Homo sapiens: one gene and its partners. The protein of the gene in region 1 interacts with the protein of each later gene in a biochemical or structural test. Each region holds a gene or a part of one and is shown on either strand. Other genes may lie near its edges. The genes, in order: TLE3, TCF7L2 and USP47.

Region 1 (10,213 bases):
AATAACTCTCAGAGGACAAGAGGGTCCCAGTGTACACACGATTCCCTGTTGAACCTGAACCTTGTATAAACAGGATATAGGGCACATGTGGTGCTTGTGGGAGGGAAGGCCCAGCTCCCCTTACTACCACATAATATAACGTTCTGTTGAGATGAGAGGAACGCTCGCCCTTGTCAGCTCTTAAACCGCTCTGTAAGCTGGCTTTGGGGTTTGATTTAAACTTCTTTAGCAAATGTATCGTAAAAGTATGATTTGGCCAAAACCTTTCCAAGAAAAAACTGATTTTGAAAAATGACCAGATTTCTGTGTTGTCTGTTAATAGCCATTCTTTTTACTTTTAGTACTATGAGATGTCCTATGGCTTGAACATTGAAATGCACAAGCAGGTAAGTGCTTTTCTCTTTTAAAAATATATTTCATTTTTTAAAAACTTATATATGTGGACTTCTTATGTTCTCTCTTGTTTGAAAGTGAGCCTGCTTCTTCGATTCCTCCCCCTTCTCCTTGAAGAGTGAATGGATCCAGTCCTTGAAATGCAAGGTCTGAGGCTTTGCTGATTTTTTTTTAGACATGTTGAGCTTTTAGCATTTGAGCTTGTGAAATTAGTCCTGGTCTTGGATCTCGGTGGAGGATAAAGGACCAAAGGGAAAGTTGTACCTCCAGGATCTGCTTTACAAACTCCTGAAAGCCCAGAGGTGGCTGGCTGCTTTTATCTGTTTTAATGTAAAATTCTCAAGAGGAAATGCAGGAGGATTTTTTTTTTCTTTCTCCTTTTTTTTTTCTTTTTGCAGAAATGTGATGTTCTGCCTTGATAAGATTAAACTTCAAGAACCTTAAAAGCCAGGCTGAGCTGTCGAAATTTAAGGGAACGAAGCCACTAACTGCTTAAAAATATGAAGCCAGAATGAAATACAACTTCAGTGCCTTGCATTGACAAGGTGGCTTTCTCATCCCTGTCTTGATTTGAAGGCAGCCGAGTTCCCATTTTACAGAGAAGGAAGCTGAAGCTCCTGGGTGAAGTAACTTGCCCAGGGGCAGCCTAGCCAGGACTTTCGAGATGGCTGGGGGTTGAGCTCAGCTTTGAAATCCTGAAGTCAAACCAGTTTAGCTAGTGTGGTGTCGTTTGATGGATATGTAAACTACCTGGTATTGTCACTCTTCTAATAACAGTATACCTCAAACCGAGCAAATACAAACACCCTTTATCTCAGTGCATATCAGTAACTAGTCCCAGTGCTAGGCTGGGCTGTGGGAGAGGCCTGTTTGTGTATTTGTGTTCTGAGGAAAGGCTGCCTATAATTTGGCTTGGCCAACGTTTAGAGTTGACTTGGCACGTATAAATGGAGCAGGCAGGCCGGTTGTTCTTTTTAACAATTGGTGTTCATGAAATCTCAGAAGGCTGTTGACTCATTCTAGCCTTTGGTGACCGTGACTTGAATGGATTTTCTGCTCTAAATTAACAGTCGTTTACAAGGTTTCAATTTTGCTCTTTAAGGAGGCAGGACCCAGGGCAGGTGAGAAGGGCAGGTGACCCTGGAAAGTGGGCAGATTCCTACCCACTCGGGTGGCTTCCTATAGAGCCTTTGGGATCTGTAGTTTCCTTTCCCCTCCTGGAGGGAGCCCCCAGTGTTGGGTGAAGGGAAGCCAGAAAGGGGCCTGAGTTTATTGAGCAATGTGTGGGAAGCCAGCTTGTGGCTTCCTGAGGGATTAGTTAGTCCCTTAGGAAGGCACATGAAGGCTACCATGTTTTTACTTCTTGACACACAGAAATAATAGACAGGGCTTTATACGTAAAGATATTTCTCCTTGGAAAAATAGAATAGAGACAGGTTCTGCAACTGGAAGGGGCCAGGTCCCGGAAGAATGCTTGAAATGGAACTGGGGGCCCAGGTGTTTCAAGGACCTTGGGGTGTATGCAGGGTGCCACTTCCTCCCTTTGTCTGCCCTGTCTTAATTTTTTTTTTCTCAAATAGTATCTTGGGTGTGTTTAAAGAGGGTAATTGCACCCAGGTTTAAAATTTATAGCAGCAGTTATTGGAAGAGCTTGGTAATTAAGGTGTAATGTCTCGTTGCATGTTGAGGTCTGCATGGGTGGTGTTCCGCATGTCTGTGAATGAATGGTGCTTTGGCACTAAGAATCCACCTTGGCTCGCAGCAGATCTGTTCTGTGAGTCCTGGGGATGCTGTGAACGCAGGAAGAGTTAAATATCTTAACGCATTTGGTGGTGGGGTTTATATAAAGAGCAGCTGTGTACATCTGGGATTTCTGGCCATTCCCCAAACAAGGTTCTTAAGGGGAGAATGCCTGGGGTTTGGCTACGTTGTCTCATTTAATCCTCTCAGCTGCCAGTGGTGGATAGAGGCATTCTTTGCCCCCTGTTTATAGGTGAGGAAACTGAGGCTTCAGGGAGGCCAGGAGGGCAGAGCTGGGATTCAAATCCAGCCCTCTGGCTTCCCCACTGGGCACTTTACCTTGCTTGCCACTCACCTTTGCCCTCTAGCCTGAGTTCCCAGCCTGAACATGTGTGCTCTGAATGCAGTGGCTTTGCAAGCTTATGGCAGTCTCTGAGTTGGGTGAAATCACCCTGTGGCTGTGGAGGAACAAAGAGGCAAGGAGGTGAAGAAACCTGTGCCGTGAAATGCAACCCTGATCTAATGGAGCTGGCCACTCCCTAGGTTTGCAAGGGTTCTGTAGAAGAAAGCCCTGCCACTAATTGTAGTGTGGGTCTTGGGTGCATTTGGCGAATGGTGGTTAGGCCTGAGCAAACAAGTTTATCAGCTGACCTGTTTAGCGGTTGACTGGTGTTTTATCGGCACACACAATCAAGTGACTGGAGTGCTTGAATTATTCATGCAGTGTCCTGCCCTCTAGACTTGACTGTTCGTGTGATTACATCTGCCTGGAACAAACAGGCTGGATTCTTCATCTTTAAGCTGGGGTGGGGGTGGGGACTGTCTGTACTTTTATATAATAGATGATCTATAGAGCTAGCACCTTGGGAAGTGTGGCAGTCCTCAGCCTGCGCGCATACACGCACACGCACTCCACCATCACCACCACATATTTTTTTTAAAAGCTCTCCTTTGCTGGCTCTATGGGAAATGCCAATTAGCTGGGAACCTCGAGTCCTGCCAGATGGGCCCGGGTATTGACAGAGGGCAGCTGATGAGGTGCGTCCAGCCCATTTTTATTTTACTGAGAGGTTAAACTCACTGTGGCTGGCTCCTTCTCTGGCTGTTTCTCTGTCTCTCTCTTTTTCCAAGCTGTCAAAATCCCAGAGAAGTAATAAATGGTTTCTCCTCCTGCTCTTCTGCCTCCCTCCCTAATTATGGTAAAGCAAAGATTACAGAATCACAGGCCTGGCCCGGGACTTCAAGAGGTCACCCACCTCCACCAAGCCCCCTGCTTCCAGGCAGAATGTCAAGGGTGGTTCAGAGAGTCTGGGAAGGCAGTGATGACTGACCGGCTCATCACTTGCCATCTTGTTTGTGCAGAGGCTTTCCAGTGTCAGCCACAAATAACAAAGCCAGCTTAAAACCAGGGGCCCCAGAGCAATTGCCATGCATTGGATTTGAGGCACTGGCTCTCTGAGAAGCTGGGTCAGGCAGCCTTTTCACCCACTGTTGGTGAGCACTGACATTTTTGAAAGTGGACTTGAGCCATTTTGATTTTGGGGCAGTGTCGTGCCGACACAATACAGTCACCTTTTTCTGTGAACTGAACAACCTTTCCTGTAAGTTTCTCTTTGAATCTTGGAACTGGAAGAGCCCTTTGGCTTCTCATGCAAACTTTTCAAGTTACAGATGAGGAAACGGTGGCCCAGAGAAGGGAAGCTTATGTACTCAGTCATACAGTCCCACGTTAGTGGTAAAGCTGCTACTGCTGCTTCCCTTCCAACCCAGGACTCTTTTCTGTAAGACTCAAGAAATGAAGAGTGCTCCTTTTCTAGTGTATTCTGTGTCTTTAATTACTATTGCTTCTTTCTGTGTTATTATCCAAACAGGCTAAGGCTACAAAACTGGCCCCACCAAAGTCCAAAGTGCCCCATTTCGGGTTGTATAATCATATCACTGAACCCTTATTGTCCACAGTCCTGTTTTGAATTGCCAGCTATTTGCACAACTAATGATTTGATGTGTGTAATAATAATACATAATGCATAACTAGCAATCCCAGAGGAAAGATTCACAGACCGGGAAAGGTGGTATATATAACCTGTGAACTTTTTACCCTAGCCATGGGGTGCCATAAACACAGGGCTGAGGTAGGAAATGGAAAATCCCCATTTGTCACTCCCCTCCCCTCCCCGCTCTGGATCTTCTCATCTAAATGATAAGGGGCTCACCTGGAAGATCTTGAGGCACACAGAAGTTTTGTGACCACGGTGAAGGTGCAAGGTACAGGTGGCCAGAGGGAGCTACCAGGCAATGAGGTTACAAAGGACTCTGCCAAGGAGTTGAGCCTATCTTGATAGGAGAATGTGGGACCACTTGCAAAGTAGAAGGGGTCAAAGGTCCTTAGACTAGGGAAGTGCCTATTTGTGTGGCATCTGAGTTGAGCTGTGAAATTTTTTTTTTCTTTTTTGCCAGAGTGCTAGCATCCAAGAACCCTCCCACCCGGCCCCATGCCCTGGTATCTGTCTTGACTTTTCCTGCTATATTGATCTTCCCTGGAACAGACTGTAATCACGAGTCCTCTCACTGAGTGGGTGCCTGCCTCGCTCAGCTTTGGGGTCTGCTGGGCTCCAAGCTCCCTGCATGCTGTCTAGCTAGAGGGAGGTTGCCCCACCCCTCAAGACTGCCTTTGGACCCCTTTTCTCTAGTTGCCAGTGGGAGTGGTAGAGTGGGGGTTTCAGTGCTTTTGGGGTCTTTTCCTTCTTGTGCATTTGTCATTGAAATGACCCTGGGAGATGAGCAAATGGCCCCTTGTCCTTACTTTACAGATCAACGGGTGGGAACCTGGCTCCTAATTCGGGACTCATTCTCTGAACTCTCTTGGACCAGGAGCCCGTGGCAGACACGGAGTTCTTCCTTTCCTTGAACTCCTCCTTCCCACCTAGGCTGTTTGTTTCCATTTTGTTGAAGGAGTGAGTCAGTCAAGGAATAAATCTCCTTTTGCTTTCTACGTGGGAGAATGTCATTCTGTCTCATTGTTTGTACAAAATACTGGGACACCAGGGGCAAAAACGTGACAAAGACCTAAGCTTGGCAGTGTTTTCCCCTGTGATCTGGCACTCATTCCTCGTCTCATTTTTGTAGGTATGAAGGAAGCCCCTCTGCTGAGGTCTCTATAGCACTTAGTATGTAATAGGTGCTCAGTAAACATCTTGGTTTTTCTTCAAAATTTACTCAGGTTATCTGAGAGTAGAGTTCCGATTCCCTGAGCCCTGTGAGTAGGAAGTGGGGATTTTAGTTGTGGGCTGGCCGCCCGCTCTGCAGGCTTCCTCCTATGGCCCAGCATCCAGTTTCTTCATCAGTGAAATGAGGGGGTTGGATTCATTCCCAAAGCAGTTATTAGGGGACTGGGATGTGCTGGGTGTGGGCTGGGGTTGGTTACACAGCCGAATAAGACACCATTCCCTCTGCGGGGGAGTCGGATGTCTAAAGAAGTAATTGCAATGCAGTGAGGTAAGTGCTAATGTGGCCCAAGTGTCATAGGAGGAGCACCCAGCACAGAACAGCTTATTCTTCTTGGGTGAGAGCAGACTTCACTGAGGGCTTTGCTTGGCGCGAGTCTGAAAGGGAGGGTAGGGTTTATGAGGCAGAAGTCGGCAGCCGAGGCCCCTCCAGGGTGGCAACAGCTCGCGGCAAGGCAGTGAGATATGTTCTAGAAGCCACACGTCTTCGGAATGATGTGGGGCGGGGACTGCACTTGGGAAGTGAGGCGAGGTGGTGACATTTTGCAGCAGAGCGATCTCCAAGGCCCCTCTGCCCTTGCAGTCGCGGCTCCCCACCCGGTGGCTCCCTGCATCCCTGCATGGCTGGCTCTCCAGGGCTGGCCTGAGTCCATCTGCCGCGGGGTGGGGGTGGGGGCGGGGGCGGGGGCCCGCTCTGGGCCGTTTGTGGCCTGCTCTGCCTGCTTTCCTACCGTAATATGCTGCTTTGAACTTTATTCCCCAAAGTGGCATTGTCTCCTTTCTCATATTGGTAATTCTGTAATGACTGGTTATGACCCGCCCCCTCCCCCATATTTAATTCTCATCAGCCCAGCTCTCCACTTTGCTATTAATGATAGCAGCCAGCAAAATAGCTTTCAACATGCCATTGACAGTCTGGTTTAAGAGAGCACTTGAAGTAGTGCTAGACAGCTGAAAGCACCCATAATTGTGTACCAGAGTGAGAACTGCGTGCTCAAGGGCCTTGTTTTTATATGCTTAAAGGGACAATATCTTGTTTTCAACAAATGCTCTCTGAGACTCACAGCCAAGATGCTTTCTTCCTTTTTCCTTTTCCTTTCTTCTTTTGGCTTTCTCTTCTCCTTCAAAATACATATTTAAAAAAAATTCTTTATAAAATAATTGTTCCCTTCAAGTTGGGGTTAAGGAGAAACTTAAGGAAGGGGGAAACGTCCTGCCGCCATGTAAGCGGGGAATATTTGGTGGGTTTGTTGTTTTGAAGCATCGTCCTTTGCAGGCAGCAAGCTGTGGGTCAGCCTTGCCCTACTGAGGGTCCTTAGGACCTTGCGTTTCTCAAGGAGGTAATGGGAGAGTCTGAATTCGCATCAGCATTGATTTTGAATTCTTTTCTTTGCTAAGGATGTTGCACAATCAGTGGGCTGCAGAGCTGTCACTGTGAATGTTTAGGCAGAGGCCACCTTTTGGGGGAGGGCTGGAGGAGAGGGGTCACCGTGTTGGAGAGTCAGGCCATGACCGCTAAGGAATCAGATTCTAGGAGGCTGTTTGCTGCAGAGTTGATGGCCCAAGAGGCCCGTCTGGAAATCAACAGGGTGGGTGGGGCAAGGACTTGTATTCTTAAGTACAGGTTCACACCAGGCTTGGAGGGTTAACCAGGGGGCCCGGCTAGTCCACCCGGCAGATTTTATCTGAGAACAAATACTTTTCTCCCCTTCACACCAGCCGACTTCATTATTGCTTTGAAAATGCAGTCCTTTGGAAGAGGTTTCCTTTGCCTCTCTGTCACCAAAGCCTCCCATTGCCAATGTGTCCTGTGAAGGGAGAAGAGAGAAGCAACTTCCCATCTGTGGGGCCTGAGAGGCCAGGGAAACCCTGTTGGGGCCTGAAGTCTATGTTGTCCTGTTCTCTCCCAGGCTGGCTGCTCTTGGTAAAGGGTAGGAGCATGGATGGGCTTGGCTCGTGTGTCTTAGGTGGTTCCTTCCATCACCCACTGTGTGAAGGATAGGATCCAGTGTTCTGGCTGCTGCCACCACCAAATAATCCCAGGGGAAGTACTTTCCAGAGGACAAACTGTTTGAAAAATTTGATCTTCCAGATATTATAGATTATAATGCTACGGCCTCTTAGAATTTCTGTAGCACTTGATTGCAAAGCAGATTCGACATTTTCATCTTAGCAGCTAAAATAATGGGTATTTGGGTCCAGGACAGACAGACACCAGGATAAAAGCATCAGAGCATACCCTGAAAGCTTGGGGTGTGAAGATGACCTGTGTACTAGAGGGCTGTGTTCTCAAATTGGGGTTGGGGAGGTGAGGCCTGTGCTGTGACAGGACTGTGAGTTCCGTGAGGGACAGGACCATTTTGTATTTGTTTTCACTAAGGGTCCTGAACCCTGAGCAGTGCCTGGCCCATACTGGATACACAGTGTGCATTTTGTGGGGACTCAAGGAAGGAAGGTAATATTCCAGCTCAGGGTTCTCTCTGACCCTGAATAGTGTTATGGACTCTTTGGGAAGGATAGAAGCTTTCTTAGTTTTCTGACAGAGGCCTGTAGGCTGCAAACGTTGTGTTTGTAGAAAGAGTTGTAAAGGTGTCATGAGCCTTTATTTAAAAGTGTCTTTAATGTATCTTAGGCATCTTTTTCTTTTCATCTAACACTATGGACAGTTTAAGTGCAAAAGGGGAAGAAGGCAGGGTGGGGGTGCGAAGAGATAACTGGGAGGAAGAGATGACAAAGCAGAGATGCGGAAGAGACAAGTGCTGAGTGGGTGAATTGGTAAACTCGGCTTGCCATGCCTTGGCTGTTTGGGCATGGAGTTCCAAGTGTTGTGGCCTTATCTCATGAGCCTTTTAAGTTTGACTATTGTTCACAGTTCTTCTACTGCTTTTTTTGTTTGTTAATTTTGAATGAAAACTACCGCAGGCCGATAGAAGTTTCTTTTTCGTTTGCGCTGGAAGGCTGACCCTTTCCTCAAGTGGAGACCCAAATGCAGAAGAGCTCTTCCCACTAGTGTTTTAGCACTGAATACCAAATGCAATTTGGGTACAGGAGAGGGCTCTCCCTTCCTGGTCAGCCATGAAGACTTGAGGTTTAGACTCCACCACCCTGCCAGCTATATGACCAAAAGGTTGGAGGAGGCGGCCTTTCACCCACTTCCCAAATCTTTCCCTTGGGCTAGCCCTCGACAGGTCTTTGCTGAGTTTGGATCTGAAACTGATTAATTCTGATAATACTGGCAGGGGCATGCTTTGGAACCGGTGATGCTTTGTGATTTCTGCTGGGGAAAATGAGAAGAGGAAGGCAGTTCAGTGCAGACTAGTGGACAAGGGATGGGAGTCCATTCTAGCTCTCTGGTGGGGGTGAGGTACAAGAACTTCTATTAACCTTCCTGGCCTCTGTCCAGGAAGAAGTAGGACACTCAGAGGGCTCAGAAGCAGCAGGTGATGCCAGATGGTCTGGAGTGAGGGTCTAACTGGTCGGGTGGGATAGAGGAAGGAGGAGCAGGGGAGACAGAGGAAGTGAGCCTGTTGGCACTGATTGGTCAATAGGTCTTCAGCTCATCCTTAAACCCTTACCTGCTTCTTTTCCTAGAAGGAGGCCCCTTCCTCTGATCTCTCTCTCCAGTGAAGAAAGCTGAAGTCCAGTTCTTATTTTGCTTTGCCTAACAACAGAAGTCCTGGGGAAAGACAGGAAGAATTGAGATTGATGGTACAATCCCTGTCTCCCATCCCTCAATCGCTGGGTTTTCATACTTTATCCCAGAGAAATGGGGGATCTCCATGAAGCCAGACTTGAAATGGGGGAGAAGCAGCCTGGTTTAGAGCTCGAAAGACATGCCCCTCTCCTGCAGGGTCCTGCTGCTGTTGGCCTGGTGTCGGTCTCCATGTCACCCAGTCCTTGTGTGTGGCAGGCACCCACAGGCCTGGTCTGCAGGAACTTGAGAAGTGTCTAGATACCCCTTTCTCTTAGCCTTTTGGGTTTTCTCACTATTCTTTTACCTGGTTTTTTACCTTACTTCTCAAGAGACCCCTACCCAGCTCTTCCTCACTATCCATTTGCCCAGGGATATTGGGCAAACTCCCTTTTTAAACTCCCAGGATGTTGAATGCCCATTGGGCCTACTGGATGATGGATGGGGTGGGTTCCCAGCAAGCCAGTTTTTCTTGGCCAGTGGATTCCCTTTCTCCCTCAGAAGATCACAAGTTCTTGCCGGGTGATCCTGGAGAGTTAGGTATAGAGCACCAGAAGCTGGGAGATTTGTCTTCATGGCTAAGAGGTTGGCTTTGGAGTCAGACAAATGTGGGTTTGAGTCCCAGATCAGTTCATGTTGGTGTGTGACTTTGAGCAGACTGTTTGACCTCTGTGATCTTCAGTTTGCAGTGGAGATAATAATAACACCTGCCTGTTGCGGCAGTGCTGTCCAGTAGAACTTTCTTCAGTGATGGAAATGCTGTATGTCTGCACTCTTCAGTAAGGCAGCCACCAGCCACGTGTGGCTCTTAAGCACTTGAAATATGGCTACTGCGACTGAGGAACTGAGTTTGAAATTTAATTTTAATTAAATTTAGCTAGCCACGGGTGGCTGGTGGCTTCATAAATTGTACAGTTACAGTTATAGGGAGTGCCATGAAGGATGCATATAGCCTGCTTAGCACAAAACCTTGCACATGGAAAGGCCGAAGCAAGGTATTCTCACAAGGGGACAGAGTCCCCAAATTGTCAAGGCCTCAGACATAGAGGACAAGATCCTTGGTGTTGCATATGTTGTAAGATTTCTCAGAGCCCTTTCCCATATGTGACTTGTTGGCTCTACGGTCCTGCAGTGTAGGCACCGTGGGCGCCACGCATCAGATAGC
Region 2 (10,213 bases), on another chromosome or scaffold:
ACAGCTCCTTCCTCTAACCTGATGATTGTCACTTACCATTGGTCTCTCCCGGCTGCTTGTCCCTTTTCCTCTTCTTCTTCTTTCCCTAGATGAAGAGATGAAACACAGGGAATTACTGCAAGAAACAGATGTGAGAAGAGTGTCTGGGCGCACCTGGAAGGAGAAGGCAGGAGGAAGTGACCATACTGCCATCTCCATCCACACAAACCCCCGGTATTTGTCCAACCTCCAACCCCGCTTCAAGCCAAATGCCCTTGCATTGTACCCCAGCTGGAGGGACACACGCTTCTTGGGAGCAGAGAAGGGATTGGCGGGTGGTGAAGGGAAGCTCTCATTTCTCATGTACCTATGTCCATTGTCAAACCTGACCCACAGCATTTGATCCATAAAAGGGAATGGGGGACGGCACGAGGAAGATTCAGAGAGGAGTGGGATGATGGCGTTGCAAGCAGTCTGAGAGCCCATCTTTGAGGAGCACATGAAGGTGGTCATGGCCGCACCAGCTTCAAGGGCTGCCCTGCCTGACCTGCTCACAGTTCTTACTTATGAAGGCCAAAGGGTCCCACTCTGAATCAAGAGAATGAAAGCTTTAGCAGAGGCTTCTCTTAGAGTTTGCTGTTAAAGATGCAGGGGAAAAGGGTGAAATAGAACGAGGAATCATCTGGGCTCCTTTCACAACTGCTGAGTGGGCTGGGAGCAGTGGCTGACGCCTATAATCCTGGCACTCTGAGGGGCGGAGGTGGGAGGATCACCTGAAGTCAGGAGTTCAAGACCAGCCTGGCCAACGTGGCGAAACCCCGTCTCTACTAAAAATGCAAAATTAGCCGGGCATGGTGGTGCATGCCTGTAGCCCCAGCTACTCGGGAGGCCGAGGCAGGAGAATCGCCTGAACCCAGAAGGCGGAGGTTGCAGTGAGCCGAGATCATGCTACTGCATGCCAGCCTGGGCAACAAGAGCAAAACTCTGTTTAAAAACAAAAAAACAAAAAACAAACAAAAAAAACCTGCTGAGTGGACATCTGTAAGAAAGAAGATGTTCCCTCAATTCTCTTCTAGCTGACATAATGAGGATGATACCACTCCTCCCATGAATGGGTCACATGTGTTGAGCATATGCCAGGTGCCAGGCATGATTCTAGGTGTGCTACGCAGATGGACTCATTTTAATCATCACAACAATCCTCTTCAACAGGTATTACCACCATTCCAGTTTCACAGAGGAGAAAACTGACGAGTTAGGTAACTTTGCCAGGGTCACACATCTAGCAAGTGGTGGGGCCAGGAGAGAACTCAGGTGGTCTTGGCTCCAAAGCCCTCAACCACAAGGCTCTGCTGCCTACAAGTTTAATGCCCAGCCCTCCAAGGAAGCTCTTTTAGTGAGGGCTTTAGGGGATGAACTGCATGGAGTCTTTCATATTCTCCAACCTGATCCATCTGCTCGAGGTTGCAAATGTGGAATGGGACTGGGGGGAATTCAGGAGAGGCGACTGCCTCATTCCGGATTGGACTAGTTCTCCCTCCCCTCATAGCCCTACCAGATGAAGTAGCTGCCTGGCATACATTGAAATGAAATGGTCTTACACTGCTATATGTTTCAGAACAGCTAAAAGTTGCCTTTGCCTAAAGCTTCTCACAGTATGTTGATGTCAACTCGGAAGAGAAAAAGACAATGATAGGCAGAAAGAAACTTGAGGTCCAGGTGCGGTGGCTCACGCCTGTAATCCCAGCACTTTGGGAGGCCAAGGCGGGCAGATCACAAGGTCAAGAGATCGAGACCATCCTGGCCAACATGGTGAAACCCCATCTCTACTAAAAATACAAAAAATTAGCTGGGCGTGGTGGCACATATCTGTAGTCCCAGCTACTGGGGAGGCTGAGACAGGAGGATCACTTGAACCTGGGAGGCAGAGGTTGCAGTGAGCTGAGATCGTGCTACTGCACTCCACCCTGGTGACAGAACAAGACTCAGTCTCAAAAAAAAAAAAAAAAAAGAAAGAAAGAAACTCGAGAACACGTTAGGTTCTGTCAGGAAAACCTCAAGGTGGTGATGCCACCAAGCTTAGGCTCCACCCAGGGCTGAGGGCCATCTGTTGTAGAAATGGCCTATCTTTTCTGTGAGGGGAAGGGGCCTGTGCAACTTGGGAGCTTTGTTTTGGCCTTCTGTTCGGGGATCTTGTTGAAACGCGCTATGTTCCTTCATGTACAATTTCTTTTAAAAGGACCTCATGTGCTTTATCATGAAGCTGGCATCTCATGGGCCTGCAATGGACCATCTCCATGCCCGCGCCTCTCCCACGTGAGGGGCAAAGTGCCACCTGGCTATCCTGGAACAGGCAGGCGGGCCTAGTTTCGGTTCATTTAGGAGCCTGAAGTATTCATAAAAACTGGGCACAGAAATGTTTTAACTTCAAGGAGTATCAGCATCCACATACCCAAGGGCTTCTCAGCCATGTGTGAAAAAGCATCCCCGTTTCCAATTCCTTGCAATATACTGTGAAGGCATCTGAAAATTCCTCTACACACAAAGAAGCTGTGCCTTTAGGATATAGCACGGAGATGTTGACTACTGAAGAAGTTGTCATTTAGACTAGAGACTTCTGGAGGACAGGGATTGTGTTTTAATAAAAAGAAGACATGAGAAAGTGGATAAACCCTACACTTAGTGAAGAGGAAGATGCATCTCCAGGGAAGTGGCCACGCTACTACCCCTTTAAATGTAACAGAAGAAAGAAAGGGCCTACGATATGGGTAGAAGAAAAGAAACTCAGGTGAGCAAATGGCATGGGACCTCTATCCTTTACCCAGTGTAGAGGGTTAAAAAGGAAATAATGTCAAATATAATCCCAGGGGTTACATATTACTATGGGACTCAAGATGTTTTCTCTTGGGCTCTAAAGAAGGTACCAAGTCTGACAATCCAAACGTGACTGTTTCACTCAATTCTGTTGTCCTAAGGTAAAGATATAAAGGCTTCCGTTACCAGTTGGCTGGAAAAGCAGGAATGTGAAAGAGCCATGAGAAGATCTCAGGAAATATTTTCCAGAAGAAGCTTTTGGAGTTTACAATGACCAAAGTAATATATGGAAACTCCCACGTCAAGTTAGTTAAAAAAAAAAAAAAAAAATACTAGTTAAGTTGCTACCACATTCAAATCCATAAAAGCTTCAGTGCTGCGGTTCTTAGTCCCAGTGTTCCCTAGCGCATAAAAGGAAGGCGTGAGTGTGAGTGTGTGTGTTCACACCCATGTGTAATGAGCCATTGTAATAGGAATCTAAGTACCTCTTACAAGAGATAAAGTTCCTAGAGCCCTAAATCCAGATCTCTAAACCTCAAATCGTCTCAGGAGTTCCCTTATTATACCAAACCATCTTCCAAATTTAAAACTGAGCTAAAGTCATTTCGAGTGCCTAACAGCCCTTCTGAAACCGAGAAAGTATGTCACAAAAAGCCTCGAGCAATACTTTCTCTAAACGACTCCCAGGCAAGTCAAACACGGTATTCTTTTGAAGCTATCACAGTCTGCCTTGTACCTTTGTAGAGATTTCACCCTGCACAACTCCAGGGGGCACCATTCACATAGACCCCAGTGTAAATGACATACTCTAGAGTTGTGCAGTGCACGCCCTGCACAGCTGTACATGAAGGCCCTACTATGACCCAAAATGTCTATTGGGGATATGATCTCTATAGAGAAGCTGAATTCCGCTCTGTGGTATCATTCTAGATTACTCAAAGAATTGGGTCTGTAGCAGGTAGAAGCTCAAGATGAACTCTAAGAACTTCTGACCCGAAACCAGGAGAGCAGCTGTCCTGAAATGATATGGTTGTGTACGTGGAGGCTATGGAGCCTGCCTGCTACTGGAAATCTCCACCTCAGGGTCAGGTGGGGGTGAACAGCAAGCCTGTGGGAGAGCATTCACTTTCTCATCCTCTTCCTTTCAGCTCCAGAAGAAAGGCCTCCCCACTGCACACATGCTGGGGACAAACAGAAAGGTCCCAAGCAGTGGAGACCCCGTGCAAGCCCATCTGTCGGCGACAAGGGCTCTCAGCAGAGCACACGCGCCATCCCAGAGGTGCCAGCACTCCTTCCTGATTCAACTCCCAGGAGGAGCACAGTCTAGCGCTGCCAGCTAAGGGGGCAGGGCCTCGAGAAAGATGGCCAGGGGCACCTCCCTGTTCCCTCATCTACATGGCAAGCACGGGTTTAAAAGTATGAGAAGAAAGAGGAAGGAGGCCTGAAATTACTCATCAGAGCAGGCAGAAGCAGCTCTTCCTCAGGATCACATAGGCCGGCAGATGTTTGCGATTTCCTGGCGGATGCTAAGTTCTGAGGGAGTAAAGATATCCGACTTAACTCTGAATCCCTGTAATAACTTGTGCACAGTAACTGCACATTTCCCAGCATCTCCTGCAGTTAGGTTGGGTCACATGACTAGCTCTGGCCAATGGGTGATGGGAGTAAGTGACCCATGACACTTCCAGGCCAAGGCAGTTAAGAGCTGTGTGTCCCCAGCCCCTGCCACAGAAGCCTCAAAGGCCATGATATGTTTCACTCAATTCAGTAATAATTTAACGACCTCGACCCCTATACGTCAAGCTGCTTCACCGCGGATGATGCCAGTGGGAGAGTCAAAAGTAACTGGAAAAGTAACCATCCATGGCTCCAAGACATCGACAGGAAGGGGATGAGAGGCCTGTGCCGGCCTTAAGACAAGTTTTGGTGTTCCCCTAAGAGTGGATGGTGAAATCCCTTCACGGAACCAAATGTCATGAAATAAAGTATCAGGCAAAACAAGAGGCATTTCATCCCTCGAGAGAGGAAAGCGGAGTTACTGGGCAAAATGGAGGATAACCAGCAATGGTGAGAAGTGACAGAAGTCTCCGGAAGACAGCGTGCTCATGGGAGGAGAGGAATCGTGGGGTCACAACCACTGCAATTAGTAAAAACAATCATCCCATGGTGTTTCCTACAACCCAAGAGAGGACTAGGCAGATCCTGTAGCCAACACAGAGCCCAGGAACACACACACCGCATAGCACACTTTCCCTGCCCTTGCTGGGGCCAGAGTCGGTTCATGCATCCTGCCAAAGGCTGACTTCCTCTGGCTGCTTTCAGGGATATTCCCATCATGCTCCTCTCAGGATGAAATAGGCTTCTAACTTCTACTGCACCATGGCACAAAGGAATAGTTTTGTTTTTCCTTCTTAACGGTAAAGGGCCTGCTGAAAGGCCTGGGAGGAATTAAATTCTGTTCCTCCACACCTACCCACTGGTCTTCCCTAGAAGGCCACACCACTGATCACTGCTGAGGAGCCTGCGGAACCTAATCCGGAACATAAGGTCCTTTGGGTGTATCCTAAGAGCCTTGCCTCCTCTAGAAAGGAGACAAGCACCAAATCAACCTCATTGGTCCTGAGCTGGAACACTGGGACTGCAGCCTCCTCTCTCCACCCTGAAGAATGACTGTGAGCTGATCCAACCATCCACACGGGAAGCCCCTCCCTGCAGTTTAGCGATCCAGGAAGATGCTACCAGTCCCCAAAGCGGGCAGATTGGATGGTCCTGAGGCCCACCCTAGTCAAGTGGCAGGTCCTGTTCTCTTTGTCCGTATAGACGCACAACACAGCTCTACAGACTCCAATCCTAACGAAAATGATCCACCTACATAGTTATCCCGCGCGGACCAGCCGGGGTACAGTTGCATATGAAGCTGTCGCTCCTTCCGGGCCAGCTCGTAGTATTTCGCTTGCTCTTCTCTGGACAGTGCATGCCACTGGAGGGGACGTGGGGTACAGATGAGAAAGACATGAACAAAGAGAAAAGCATGAAAGAACATCACACATTACGCCAAGGTCAGGGGATAAATAATGCTGCCTTTTTGGGTGAGTCCGTCCAGAAATGGTATAATCTGTACATACTGACCGTCGGCTGGGTCCTGGCACTAACAGGAATGTTTAGACAAAACTTGATTTGTTATCTATGTCATTCTGTCATTTGCTCACTCGCTCGGGTAGGGGAAGAGCATGGCTGTGGCTGTTCTGAACGCTGAGTGCAGAATAACTAGTCCTGACTCAGTGAAGGCCATTCAAGGATTCAGAATGTGGCTGAAGGGCAAGAATTCTCCAAAGAAATGGGGACAGAGACATTCTGCCACCTGACCTGCTGCACTCTGGTCCCTCACCACCCGCCCCCCGCTTCTCCCTGAGAAGGGCGTCACCTACCCTCCGCCCAAGGATCTGGTTGATGGCCGCGCTTTCTTTCAACGTGCACTCAGCTACGACCTTTGCTCTCATTTCCTTCATATACAACATGAATGCATTAAGAGGTTTCTTTATGTGGGGCTTCTTCTTTTCTTCTTCCTTTTTGGAGTCCTGATGCTTTCTGGAGATAGACAAAACAGACGCAACCCAATAAACAAGGTCGTGGTCCAACTTCCTCCATGGCAGGGAACGTATCTCCTTGTCTCATAACCCCCAAGCCTAGCAGTTTTGGATTAAAAAGCATGCTTTTAGTTCTTCTGCACCCCGGAAAATGGAACAAAAATAGCTTGGGGAGGGGTTGGGGGAAGAGAGGGATTTTGCAATCACTTCCTCAAGTTTCACAAATATACAATTTTCCCAAGCCAGAGGGGAAAGCACATGGTTGCTGTCTTCACCTCGGCAGGGTTTTCTCCTGCTTGCAGAACAAAGCTCTAAATGTTCAATGATGCGGTTAGGGGGCAGGGAAGTGGTTGCAAATCCCAGTGTATCCAAGTACACACACAAAAAACAGTTCTGTTCTAACCCACGGTGGTACAGTGAGATTCTGCCACTGTGCACTCTCTCTCTCTTTGTAAGGGAGTGAAGAGCCCACACAGGCTGGGTATTGGCTGCAGTCAAACCAAACGAGGCCAACCTTAGGCAGAAAGCCACCACCCAGCAGCTGCAACAGGCTTGCAGAACACTGCGGCTACGAAGAAGGTGAGAAAAACAGCAACACTTACGAACTATGGAGTGAGCCGACATCACTCTGGGACGATTCCTGTTTGACTGTTGGTGTGACTATGGCCGGATGCGGAATGCCCGTCGTGTGTAGCGTATGATGTGGTGGGACCATATGGGGAGGGAACCTAGAAGACAGAAAGCTGTGTAAATCGTCAGAATCAAAATGAATGAATGAGGAGGGATGTGTACACACAATTAAAAAGAAAAAAAAAAACAGCACGTAACACTCACATGAAAGCAACCCAAGGCATATGAAACCTGTCAGCATTAATTAGCGATAAATTAAACATAATGATTCTCATAATGTCATTAAAGCCAATTCATTATTGCTACTGACATAAGACATTATGATTTTTAACATCTTTAGCAAAAGACAAATTCAACTGACGTACTTGGGCGGAAAAGTGGGCTTGGACTACCTGCCAGAAATCGCACGTCCACTTGTTTTTTGAGGCATTATTAGTGGCATCTAAGAAGACAATTTCCTAAGTCCTAATCAGCTCTAAAATGAAAGGTGAAATCTTTTGTTGTATATTGACAGCTAAATAAAATATTAACGTGGTTGAAATATACATACATTTTTGACAATGCTGTGCAAGCCTCATTAGGCCTCATCCTGTTGATGAAGTGCAATACAATTTTTATTTTTCTTTTGTGCTGTGTCCCATCATTTGACAGGAATGGGAGAGAGTGAGGCAGGAAGACAGGGAAAATTCAAATAGTTCCTATTTGGTTCATATCATAAGTCATGGACATTTTAAATAAGTTTCTATCCCTTTATGGAAAGATGCAAAAAAAAAAAGGAAAGGAAAGGTGCACACACACACAATAAACCTTTGATTCTGATTTGTATGCCCTTTCTCCTCTAAAATTTAGGATTCCTATATCACTTTTACTTCATATGTTGTCTAGGCATCATTAAGAAGTCTTCTAAATGATTATCAAAATTATAAATGAAAGATACAGTTTGTGTTTTCTCCTCTCATGCTGCTCATTTTTTGGACAGTTCTCTAAGGCACATTTTAGGACCTGAATTGGCATTTCCCAACCAAGTACATTAGCCAGGACAGAAAGAGCTAATCTCAACCTACTCTTGGCCCATCTGCAGACTGACAACTGGATCAAACACCTTTCTCATTTTCAATTTTGCGTGGTGTCACCATGATTTGTACTGGGTTGGAAGACTCACCCCTCTTCAAGCAACATATCCTACTATAGAAAAAATAGTGAGGGACAGAAAGGGCAGAATCCCAAAAGTAAACAATATGGCAGCCTCCTGCTCCAACCTGGCAAGGTGATTCAAGTGAGCAGATGGGAAGCTGTTCAGATGAAGATCATGGCAACTGTTGCTTTCTTAATAAGTCCAAACCAAAGCAGTCCAATGTACCATCCAAGGAATAACAATCTGCTCTTTACAAAGCCAATTCTGGTGGGAACTAGAGGGCCTAATGAGGATCGATCACGACAATTCTTCCAAAATGATTCTGTATGTATTTACAAAGTTTTTTCCAGAAGCGGGCTAGAGATAGTTTCCATTCAGCCAAAATAAGGTAACAAACATTAATTTGAAAAATAATAAAATGATTAAAGTACTAACTGAATCTACACAGATCAACAGAGGAAGGAAAGTTAATGCTGATTCTTGAAGAAGGCCCAAGCCACAGTAGACATTTCACTCAAAAATCCCACGCTGACGTGGCCTTTCCTGCCACTGCCTTTACAAATTTAAGCCAGTAGTGAAGACTGCATGACATGATTTTAAAAATAACAACAATACAAGTCCTTCGAATGTATCAAAAAAAGAGAGAGAGAAGGAAAATGTAAGGAAACAAACATGCTAACAACCTTCATCTTCATCCCCTTCCTCTCAAAATAATGTGAAAAACAAAAAAAGCAAAACCCCTTGGGAGACACTTGGGCTCCAAGTGACACCCTGTTCCTTCCCACTGCTCGAAGGCCTCAGAGGAAACAGAAGTTAAGAACATGTGTTCTTGGAAGCCCTTGGGTGAAGTGGTGGGTGGCAGCTTTTACTGTGAATTTTGAAGGCCTGACATTCCTCAAATACATATGTTCCCTTCCTGCAGAATGAGAATATGTGTACAGACGTGAGAGGGAGAGGGAGGGGGAGAGAGAAAAACACTGCATGTGTGAGTGTGTGTGTGTACGTGTGTGTACATACACCAAATACCACGGGAAGGCACCACAATCTGAGTACATTTTGGGGTGCAGACAAACTTCTAATGCAGCCATGAAGAAGGCACATTTCTAAGTTCCCATACCTACGCGTATATTCCCATATCTGAAAAATGTTCAGCAAAGAAAGAGACCATGTGTGAACATGGATGTGGGCTGTATACACATACCTTCGCTTAAGAAATTCCTTTCTGCAGACTACTATTTCATGAAATGCAATAAACACCCTAAAAATTCTAAGCAGCTCATTATATACCCCCGTCTGCTTTCATGGCTCCAAGCCAGAATATAATGATGAACCTTAACTTGTTAAGAACAACTAATTTTTGTTTCTGGCTGTCTCAGGGGCTTCTCTCTTACTCACTCTCACTTTACTTCACTGTTGACACGTTTCTGTTAACCGGATGTCATCTGCCGGCCTTGATTTTATGCACAAGCAGTAGGATGCATTTTCCTGTGCAACAATCCTGCTTTGAGTTGCATTAGGTTTGTCATTATTCTCTCATTTTCCCCCTTGCACTTGTAACATTTCATCTCTTCCTGCCTTATTTTTTGTGAGCCACGGTGCACCCACATTATGGTTTATACATGATCTCGCTCCCTTTGAAGCCGGCAGATTTCAGAGCCGGCTCTCGTCAGGAGAAGAGCCTTGCACCAATTTAGCAGGCTGAGGGCCCGGAGCTCCAACATCTCAATCTAAAGGGGGTCACAGGGTGGCACAAGTGAGTGTCAGCAAGAGCTGTTTAATTGCCAATCTAGGCTTCTCCATGGTGTTTAAAGTATAATGACCCATCACTTAATTCTGAGAAGTCCTGGCCCCACTGCTGAATAGAATGAATATCAAAGGGTGTTCTGGAACAGGGCAAGCTGCCTACATTTGCTATAACTGCCATAAGTATAATAGACCTATACTTCTGTCGCCCCATTATCACAATAATGTATTTAATTTGCTGTATATGCTTTTTAACTAGCTATCTTTCATTTGGCCTACCTGGGGAGTCGGCCGCCTCTCCCCGCACCTTGAGGCCCTAACCTTT
Region 3 (10,213 bases), on another chromosome or scaffold:
CCTCTGCATATCATGCCACCTACACATGCTGCCTGAACTGAAGAAGGTCCTTAATACCAAGGAATTTGTTCTAAAAGTAGATGTCTTTTGGAACTTTAATTTACAATAGGTATTTAAATATATATATTTAATGCTCTGTTTTTTACAACCCCTGTTTTTGATACAATCTTTTCTTTCTAACTTGGGCTATCACCATACCCTACTATTCTGGAGATGCAGGAACTCCTCCTTTCCATTTGGCAAAAAAAAAATTACAGTATCTGGGCACTAAAAGACAAAAAATCTATATGACTAATCCAAAAAAGAGAAAATAGAAGATAGGCAAGAATCCTAATTATTCAAATAGTCATTTTCATGTAAAATAAAAGTCCACCCATTTAAAACTCCTTAAAAACTGCAGGACAAAAAGAAATACTTCATAGTATTCAGTCAGGGCAAGGGCACAGAAGTGACACATGAACATATAACAGCACATCTGAGGAACAGCAACTAATGTAGTGGAATGTGGTTTGTACAAAACTGGCTTGGGGCATGAGACAAAAACATTAAGAATCTCTGGTTAAAGAGGATAGACTGAATATAAGGATTTAGCTCTGATGCCTCCCAGTTAAGAAATTTTTGAAAGACTATTAACCCCAAACAAACAGAAACACAATTTTAAAAGCTAGAAAACAGAATAAGTGGCAATGACAATTACAACTAGGAAGGCTGAATTCCATGTTAGCCTAGAAGAAAGCAAAGACACCTAGTTTATATCACACTGACATTTAGTACACCAAAAGACCTCTAAACTCCTTGGAGAACTGGTTGATTCCAGGGTTGGGGCAAGGAAAACATAAGATGGGCTGAAGCATTATGTGGTGTTGGAAAGTAAGGAAGTGAGTGCTCAAAAAGCAAGGATGAGCACAGAAGCCCACCAGAAAAAGCACCCCCTGGCAAAAATTGGAACAGCTTGATCAACAAAATAAATGATATAGAATTGGATTATAATCCAAAGAATAAATATCCATAAGTCCATACTGATACAAATAAATAAGTAAATAAATGGGGGTGGGGGGAAGGACAAATTCTCCTCACAGAAGAATTTAAATTAATAAATGTAGAAATAATGAGAGAAATAGAAAATCACTATTATTAAGCCACAGTAATAATTGCTGCAGGCAAGATCACAGATAGATGATAAAATTAGTGGGCAGAAATTTAGGGGGAAATAGGTTATCTGCATGGTCTCAAAGAATTTGATTTTTAAAAGCTATTTTATTTTTAAAGTTTGACCTGCCTGGCTGAGTAACTTTAAATCAAAGTACTTAATAATTATTAAAGGGAAAAATAGTAACTTCACAGTGGAGAAACCTAGCAGACACCCTCTTACCCAAGTGATCAAGGTTAACATCACCAGTAGTACGTATCAGCATCATGCCCCCCTACCAACATAATGCACTAAGAAGAACACATCCCATCTGTGATAATCCTTCTTTTTATTCATAACCTCAATCTATTCATGAGAGAGCATCCACAAACCCAAATTGAGAGCCATTCCATGAAATAACTGACCAGTACTCTTCAAAAGTGTCAAGATCTTGAAAATGAAGACTGAAAAATTATCACAGATAAAAGGAAACTAGGAGATATGATAACCAAATGCAATGTGGTATCCTAAATTTGGATCTTGAAACAAACAAAAACTATAAGAGGGAAAACTGGTAAAATCTGAATAAATTCTGTAGTGTAGTTAATAATATTATACTAAGGTTAATTTCTTCTGATCATCGTTCTATGGTTATATAAGATGTTAAGATAAAAAGAAGCTGGATGAAGGGTATACGGAAACTTTGTACTCTTTCCGCAATTCTTGTGTAAATACATTAAAGCAAACAAACAAAAAAATAAACTAAGGGGCTCAGGAACTGGAAGTTTCAGACACTTTGGGAACGAGAGTGGAGTCCAAACTAGAACTGACCAAAATCTAAGAAGTAGTGAAAATCCCCAGACCTCCTCTTCTACTCTTCAACCCTTTCTGATAAAAGACTAAACAATCTCTAGAGAGCATATAACAGGATATATCTAGACTAGAGGACAACATGCTCAATTGAATTTGAAGGGTGCCATAATGAAAACTGGGGAATTAGGTTAATCTGCATGCTTAAAGATGAGACCCATATCCCCTTTTCCTACTCAGCTCTCAAGCTTGTTCTCTCCTGGCAAAAGATGAGAAATTTTGTCTGGGAAAACAATCCAGCACAAAAGAAAAGATGTGTCACTGGGTGCCCTGGTCTAAATGCCTATGTCTCCTTACCCCAAAATTCACATGTTGAACCCTACTTGCCAATATGATGATATTAGGAAGTGGGATCTTTGGATGGTGACTGGATCAAGAAGGCAGGGCCCTCATAAATGAGATTAGTGCCCTTGTAAAAGAGGCCCCAGAGAGCTGCCTTGTCTCCTTCCACCATGTGAGGACACAGCGAGACGGTGCTGCTCTGTGAACCAGAAAGCAGGCTTTTACCAGACACCAAATCTGCCGGCACCTTTATCTTGGACTTCCCAGCCTCACTCACAGGAACTGTGAAAAATAAATTTCTGTGGATTATAAGCCACCCAGTTTATGGTATTTTGTTTTTGCAGCCCAAATGGACTAAGACTGGGAGTCTGCAAGGAAATCATCCAGATTTACCATCCTACACAAAAAACCATAATCACACAAAAGCAGAGCTTCCATTCAGCTTAGGGCCTCTCTCTTAAATAAGCACAGACTGCCAAGGATCATGAGACATCTAAGGAAAGCAACAAATATGAAAGATAAAGACCAAAGCAAACAAACAGAAAAAGGAAATTTGGAAGAAAAAGAATATGCAGACAAAAAAAAAAAAAACTACCAATATTTCCTAAGAGAGATAAGACACTGCATCCATAAAACAAATATAGGATTTTTTTTTCAAAAAAAGGAATGGAAACTATACATATTATAGCAGAAATAAGAACTTAGTAGAAAAACTGGAAGACAAAGTTGAGAAAAATCTCCCAGAAAGCAAAGAAAAAAAATGTAAAGAAATGGAAAATAGATGAAAATAGACAAGAAAATTAGAGAAACCCATCAGTAGGCCCAACATCTAACAACAGGAATTCAAAAGAGAGAGGAGAGATAAAATGAAGGAGAGGAAATCAAAGAAATTATTTAAGGAAAATTTGCAGAATTTATGAGATAAATTCCAGATTGAACAGGATTAGCAGAATGAATTAAAAAAACAGACATATAACTACATAATACAAGAATTTCAGAACTCTGGGGACAAAGATTCTCTCTCTAGCTCGCAAAGAGAAAAAAAGAAAGTTTCAAAATAGTTGAAAAGGATGTTCTAAGCATCTGATCTCAACATCGACACAGAAAAATAGAAGACAGTAGAGCAATGCCTTCAAAATTCTGAGAAAAAATTATTTCTGACTCAGAGTTCTCTGCCCAGCCAAACTATCCATAAAACAAGAGGGGAGAAAAAACATTTACAGACATGTATAGTCTTGAAAAAATTCTATCCCATCCAGAGAACTATTGAAAGTGGCCCTTCAAAATGAGAAAGTAAACAAAGACAGCCAAAGATACCAGATACAGAAACAGGGGCTCCAAAACAAGACAGAACTGAGAGAATCATAAAGATGACAGTAAAGCAAGTCCAAGACAACAGCTGCACAAAAGTTCTAGCTTTAACAAGTTCAAACTGGAGTAGGTCAGAAGGCCCTGGGAAAGAGCTTCTCACGAAGTCAAAATTGGTAGGTTTGAAGATAAGCCATTTATACACTTGAGAGATAGTTTGGGCTAAATCAGGGTTTCTCAACAACAGCTCTACTGACATTGTGGGCCTTCTAATTCTTTGTTACAGGAGGCTGTCTTGTGCAGTGCAGAAGAATATTTGGCAGCATACCTGGCTTCTACCCACTAGATGTCAGTAGCACACACCCGCACTCTCCTCCCCTCCCCCAACATTGCCAAATGTCCTCTGGAGAGAAAATGGGCCCCAATTGATAACCACTTGGCTAATTTAATAAGTATACAGAAAACTAAGCAAAGCAAAATTGTTAAAAATTACTAACTCTGGCCTAGCTAACATGGTGAAAATGGAGTCATTATAAACTGAAATACTGATGTATACAGGCTGGGCATGGTGGCTCACGCCTATAGCCCTAGTACTTTGGGAGGCTGAGGCAGGAGGATTGCTTAAGCCCAGGAGTTCAAGACCAGCTTGTGCAATAATAGTGAAACTCCATCTCTATGAAATGCGGATGTATCCAAACGACTTGCAGTATGACAATATTGGGAGTACTGGGCAGGGTTAAAATGTGTGCTTGTGTGTGGTTGGGGATAGTGGTAAACCCTCATTTTTACTTAAACTGAAAAATATCTTAAACTGAAAAATCAAGAAGTAACACTATAAAAACGCTAGTTTCGGCTGGGCATGGTGGCTCACGCCTGTAATCCCAGCACTTTGGGAGGCCGAGGCAGGCGTATCACGAGGTCAAGAGATCAAGACCATCCTGGCTAACACTGTGAAACCCCATCTCTACTAAAAATACAAAAAATTAGCCAGGTGTGGTGGCGCGCGTCTGTAGTCTCAGCTACTCAGGAGGCTGAGGCAGGAGAATCGCTTGAACCCGGGAGGCAGAGGTTGCAATGAGGTGATATCGCACCACTGCACTCCAGCCTGGGTGACAGAGTGAGACTCCGTCTCAAAAAAAAAAAAAAAAAAAATGCCAGTTTCAAATATGGAAGTAAGTATCAAAAGAATGAGTTGAAAGCAGTTGCCCCTAGGCAGCCTGAAATGAGGGGAAATTTGCAGAGACCTACTGTTTTTGTAAATATAGTCATGTGCCATATAAAGACATTTTGGTCAACAATCACAAAGATGACAGTGGTCCCATAAGATTACAAATACCATATTTTTACTGTACCTTCTGTATGTTTGAACACACAAAGACTTATGATGTATTACAACTGCCTACAGTATTCAGTACAGTAACATGCTGTAGCCTAGGAGCAACAGGCAATGCCATATAGCCTAGGTGTGTAGCAGGCTAAACCATCTAGGTTTGTGCAAGCACACTGTATCATGTTCAAATGATGTCTAATGATACATTTCTCAGAATAGGTCCTCATCATTAAGTGACAAGTGACTATAGTTCTGCAGAGCTATTTAACTCTTATAAATATATGCATGTATTAAACATAACTTTGATAAAAATTAAATTTAAAAAATCAACTGAATCCATATTATCAAGGACTTTCCTACTGGTTAAAGCTACCTTGATTTAGAATCAAATAGCTATGTAACTTTGAGCAAGTTACTTAGCATCTTTAAGCCTAGTTTCTTCATGTGTAAAATGGATAATGAAGAATAATAGCTAATACTGTCATACTGTCAAATGAGATAATGTAAGTGAACTGGTTAGCATAGTGTCTAGCACATACTGTTTACAAATAGTACCTATCATTCAAATTGCAATCAGAGGGTAATAATTATAAACTTTAAAACAGGTAAATCTTAATCTCATCTGTTTTAGAAAGTAACCCTGGCAGTTGTGGGGAGGATGGTTAAGAAAGGAAAGGCCTTGGAAGCAGACTGACCAATTAGAAAGGCTACACATTGGAGAAAATAACAATAATTAGACAAAGGCAGAGCCATGGAGAGAAAGATAAGGATACAGAGACATTTTCTAAGTGGTGAACTATATGTGAGAAAAAGGAAAAGAGAGGAGTCAAAAACTGTTCTAACTTAAGCATATAAATAGATGGCGATAACACTAACTGAAACAGGAGAACACCAAGAATTGGGTTGTGAGAAGGGAAGGAGAAATAAGTTCGATATTACCTATATTTAATTTGTGGGTCCTAGAGTACAACCAAGTACAGATATCCAGAACAGTGGAAATCTGAATCTAGAAGGGGTCAGGGCTGGAGATATAAATGTGTAAATCACAATCAAAGGTTGAAGCTATACAAGTGGATCCGATTACTCAAGACAAATATACAGAGTAAGAGGAGAGGGGAAATAGGAAAACTGTGAGCACAAAAAAAAAAAACACTATGTAAATACCCCCAAAACTACAATCAGATCATCTCAATTTCTGTTTTTGAAAATAATGTACATGCTCATTTTTAAATATGAAAGTCTAAATATATATCCCAATAATCCAGAAATTCAGAAATAGCAACTCTTAATATTTTAGTGTATTCCTTCTAATCTTTCAACGCATTTAACCCTAAATTGTTCATTTTTTCCTGGACAAAATTAGAATCATATACAATTCTGCATTCAGCTTTTGCTTTCATTCATTAAATGAGCATTTCCAATGATATCTAAAATACTGACTTTTATTAAACACTCCAATTTGTTTAAAACGCTGGCGGGTATAACTTGACAAACTTGTCTCTTACTGGTAAGAGAGAGTCAACATCTGAAATTTAAGAAAAAGCCTCATTTTAAAAGAATCACTAAAATCAAGAATGACAATTGCAGCACATTTCCTCAGGTAATTTAATTAGGAGAAATAAAATTAAAAGAATATGCATTTGACATGTTCCATAATAGATACTGATGAATGGATTTTATAAGAAGTCAGACAATAGAAATAAAAATAAGTTGTTTTTGCTATCAATGTGTCTTATGTACTCTGAGGTTGCTGTGAAGCTCAAATGAGTTAATACAAAGCACAACCAACAGTATCTGGTATATAAATAAATGCTCAATAAATACTGGTTATTACTATCATCATCATCATTAGATGCCAAAACCAGTTCCAGACAGAAGTAGTGATTGCATGAAAGACAGGAGAAAAAAACCCAGAGATAAAGAATTTACATTTCTACTCTTTTTCCTTCATTTTTTCCATTTTCTCTGGATTTAGAGTCCATGAGCACTACTTTAAGTACTGCAGTTTAAGTATTATTTTTAAAGCATCAGTAAATATGCACCTTATCCTTGATCATTCTATAAGACACTTGAGAGAAGAACAAATTTTTCTATTCTAAGTTTTTCCTATTTGGCAGAATACAGTAATATGCACAGTGAGTACTCAATGAATATTAATGACACACATCCTTATAAGAAAACAGAATAACAAAATAGCAACCAAACAATAATTAAAATTGGGATGCTATTAAAAGAGACCTCAAAGCAGAAATCAATATACTACAATTCAAAGACATACGGCAGAATGAAACGGGTGAAAAGCTCTGTTCTTCACCACAATGAAGAGATACCACTCTCTTTGCTCTTTCTGGGTACAACAATTTAGGAGGAATACTAAAAACCCCAGATTATGTCCAAAAGAGAGGAACTAAGAAACAGTTAAAGAACTGAGGAAGCTCAGACTCAGAACAGAAAAGGTCAGTTCTCAGGCTACCCTCTCCCATCTTCAATGATGAGAAAAACTATCCTATGGGAAATGCTTTAACATTTCTGTAAGGCAACTATCAAAAGATGGCAGCTATAGAGATCTAGACTTCTCTCAACTCAAAAACTTAAAAATAACAGATCTCTTCTAAGACAAAGATTTTATCAAAGATTAGTCATAGAAGTATGTATTAAAGCAAAAGTTGGCAAATAGCTTGCCAATGATGCTGTGGAAAACCTCCAAGGACAGGATAATTGGTTAGAATGCTAAATTTACTTACAACTCTGTCACCACATCAACGAATATTTACTGAATATCTGCTCCAGGAAAGACACTGTCTTAAACCTATAGTACAAAACCTACAAAAACAAAAAGCAAAGACAGAGAAACATACCAAGTCTTTGCTGTCAAGGAATTCACAACAAATAATATATAAAATGTAGATTACAGTTTCAGATCATAATAGATGTCGCCAAGCACCATCTAGTAATTGCCAAATGAATTCTATTCCTATATAAAGGTCTTCTAAGAGGGAGAAATCTCTAAGGTTAAAATGGTCAGAAAAGGCTATTTAGCATAAATGAGATATGAGGTACTTATGGAAAAATGTGTATGAAGGTTTTGAACAGGAAGGAGGGGGCAGCACAAACAGAAGTGAAATGCAAGTTAGAGAGAAACCTGTTTGACTACATTAAAAACCTGTTTCATGGGAGAAGAGATAAGCTGGAAGGACAGGTTGTGGCCAGAATCAATGGTACTGGGCCTTGAATACCAAGCTAAGTAATTTCAAATTTATCCTGCATAGAGTCTCTGTAGCAACTACTCATCTCTGCTGTTGTAGCCATACAAAATACTAAATAAATGGCATAGCTGTTTCAAGACTAAAATTTGAATTACACATTATTTTCATGTGTCACAGACTATTATAATTCTTTTGACTTTTTTTCTTCAACAATTCGAAAATGTAAAACTCATTCTTAACTCACAGGCCATACAAAACCAGGCTGTGAACTGATCTGGACCACAGGCCGTGGTTTGCCAATGCCTGTACTACACTAAGCTGTCTTCTTCAAGAGTCCTCTAAAGGTACATTTGTCCTTGAGTTTCAGGGACCAAAATATATTATTCACTGAACAACTATACACTCCAACACACGCACGCACACATGCCCACATCTAACCAAGATCTAAATCTAGCAGGGGTCAGAGGTTCCCTATACAAAGGCCCTCAAAAAAAAAAAATCTTTAGATTATTGATAATAAGCCATTAAAATAAATGCATGAAATTTTTTAATTTGCCATTTATTTTCACATATATATGTACTTAGAGAGTTACAAACTATTCTTACAGAGCCTCTAAATTACATGTAGGGCTCTGTAAAATAGGGTATAATCAAGGGAATAGTAGCAAAGGAAGTGAGTTCTAGCACTAGGTCTGCCATTTACTCATTATTTGACCCTGAACAAGTCACTTTCAATCTTCTGGGCCTAACTCCCTTAACTGTAAAGTGGAGGGGTAACTTAGATGATGATTATGCTTTCTCTTAGCTCTAGCACTGTATGATTCTACTACTGTTTAAAAGGACCTGTCCCGGAGCTTCAAGGATCACACAAAAGTGCCAATTAAGAATACAAAAAAGAAGAGAAAGGCCTTGACTAAATGAGTGGGCAGATAGGACAAACAGGTGGGAAAATGACCAGAAAAGTGGAGTATCACTAAAATCAAGAAATTGTTTTTTTAAAAAAACTATCAGATCCTGCAGAGAATTCGAACAGCAGAAGAGGCAAGAAAAAAAAAGTCAAAGAATTTGGTCATTTAAGAGATAACTGGTGATTTTCAGAAAAAGTTTCCAGTAATCCAGAAGCAAATATGGAACTGGAGGCAATCACTTTAATAAAGAATGAGTGTGGCCATCAAAGAAGAAAAAGCTAGTTGGCTAGCTATAAAAGGTAAGAACCACAGATCATGCTTCCAGGAATCATGAAAGGAACCAGGGAAAAAGAAGACTGAAGATGAGACTAAGGAATAGACAATAAAGGCATATGGTCCATAAAAAGAAGAAAGGGAAAAAACATAAGTTGTGATGAATTTAAAGCCTCAGGGAAGGGAATTAATCTTAAAAGGACAGGCATTTAATCTTTAAACTTCCGTTGCTGTTATCACTTTTTACACAACAGATGTTTCTGCAAAGCTCGGTATCTATTATCATATCATGTTTTCTATAAATCAAGTTATTAGGGAAATAAATCTAATGTTGGGTTTTCTTAAAGCAGAGTTCCACCTATATGATATTTTTCTAATGGTCAAAAAATTAAGAAAGAATTTTGTTTTTTATAAAAATGAAAACCAGCAATATGAAGCTCTAAAATGAAATACACATTTATACCTTTCTTACAGCACCTATCACTTCCTTCCTTGCATAAGAATTACTTACGTGGTAAAGTACCTAGTCCCTAATTGGAGTTCAACAAACACTAGTGTTCCCTTTCTTAGTAGCTCAGAAAGTTCCCAAGGCAAGAATTCTGATTAACTCATCTGTTTATCTGCTTTGCACAGAGTTGGTGACGCTTGATGAACAAATACTGACACATAACTCTCTGCCTTTTACAAAAATCGTCCTTGCAAAACAACTATCACTGCCCTTCTGACAAAGCTGGGAAAATACTTGTATCATACAGGTACATAACTCCAATAATATCACCCTTGCATACTGTCAGAGCTTGCTTAAGTAACAAAGAATTGCTACAAAACAAGTAAAACAGGCACAAAAAAATTTAAGAATCTGTAATGATCACTCATTAATTTCAAGATCGCACACAGTTAATTTCAA

What was found.
Region 2: the proteins of TLE3 (region 1) and TCF7L2 form a complex in vitro, tested with the Homo sapiens proteins (one study listed by BioGRID).
Region 3: of the proteins of TLE3 (region 1) and USP47, one has a biochemical effect on the other in vitro, tested with the Homo sapiens proteins (one study listed by BioGRID).

The regions. Positions count from the first base shown.
Region 1 is NC_000015.10:70,084,705-70,094,917, reverse strand, and holds part of TLE3 (transducin-like enhancer protein 3), read left to right. Parts: intron 1-128; exon of another isoform or gene 129-192; intron 193-341; coding exon 342-386; intron 387-10,213. UniProt on the Homo sapiens protein: Transcriptional corepressor that binds to a number of transcription factors. Inhibits the transcriptional activation mediated by CTNNB1 and TCF family members in Wnt signaling.
Region 2 is NC_000010.11:113,147,893-113,158,105, reverse strand, and holds part of TCF7L2 (transcription factor 7-like 2), read right to left. Parts: intron 7,124-10,213; coding exon of another isoform or gene 7,109-7,123; coding exon 6,983-7,108; intron 6,382-6,982; coding exon 6,222-6,381; intron 5,774-6,221; coding exon 5,666-5,773; intron 86-5,665; coding exon 37-85; intron 1-36. UniProt on the Homo sapiens protein: Participates in the Wnt signaling pathway and modulates MYC expression by binding to its promoter in a sequence-specific manner. Acts as a repressor in the absence of CTNNB1, and as activator in its presence.
Region 3 is NC_000011.10:11,843,136-11,853,348, reverse strand, and holds part of USP47 (ubiquitin carboxyl-terminal hydrolase 47), read right to left. Parts: intron 1-10,213. UniProt on the Homo sapiens protein: Ubiquitin-specific protease that specifically deubiquitinates monoubiquitinated DNA polymerase beta (POLB), stabilizing POLB thereby playing a role in base-excision repair (BER). Acts as a regulator of cell growth and genome integrity.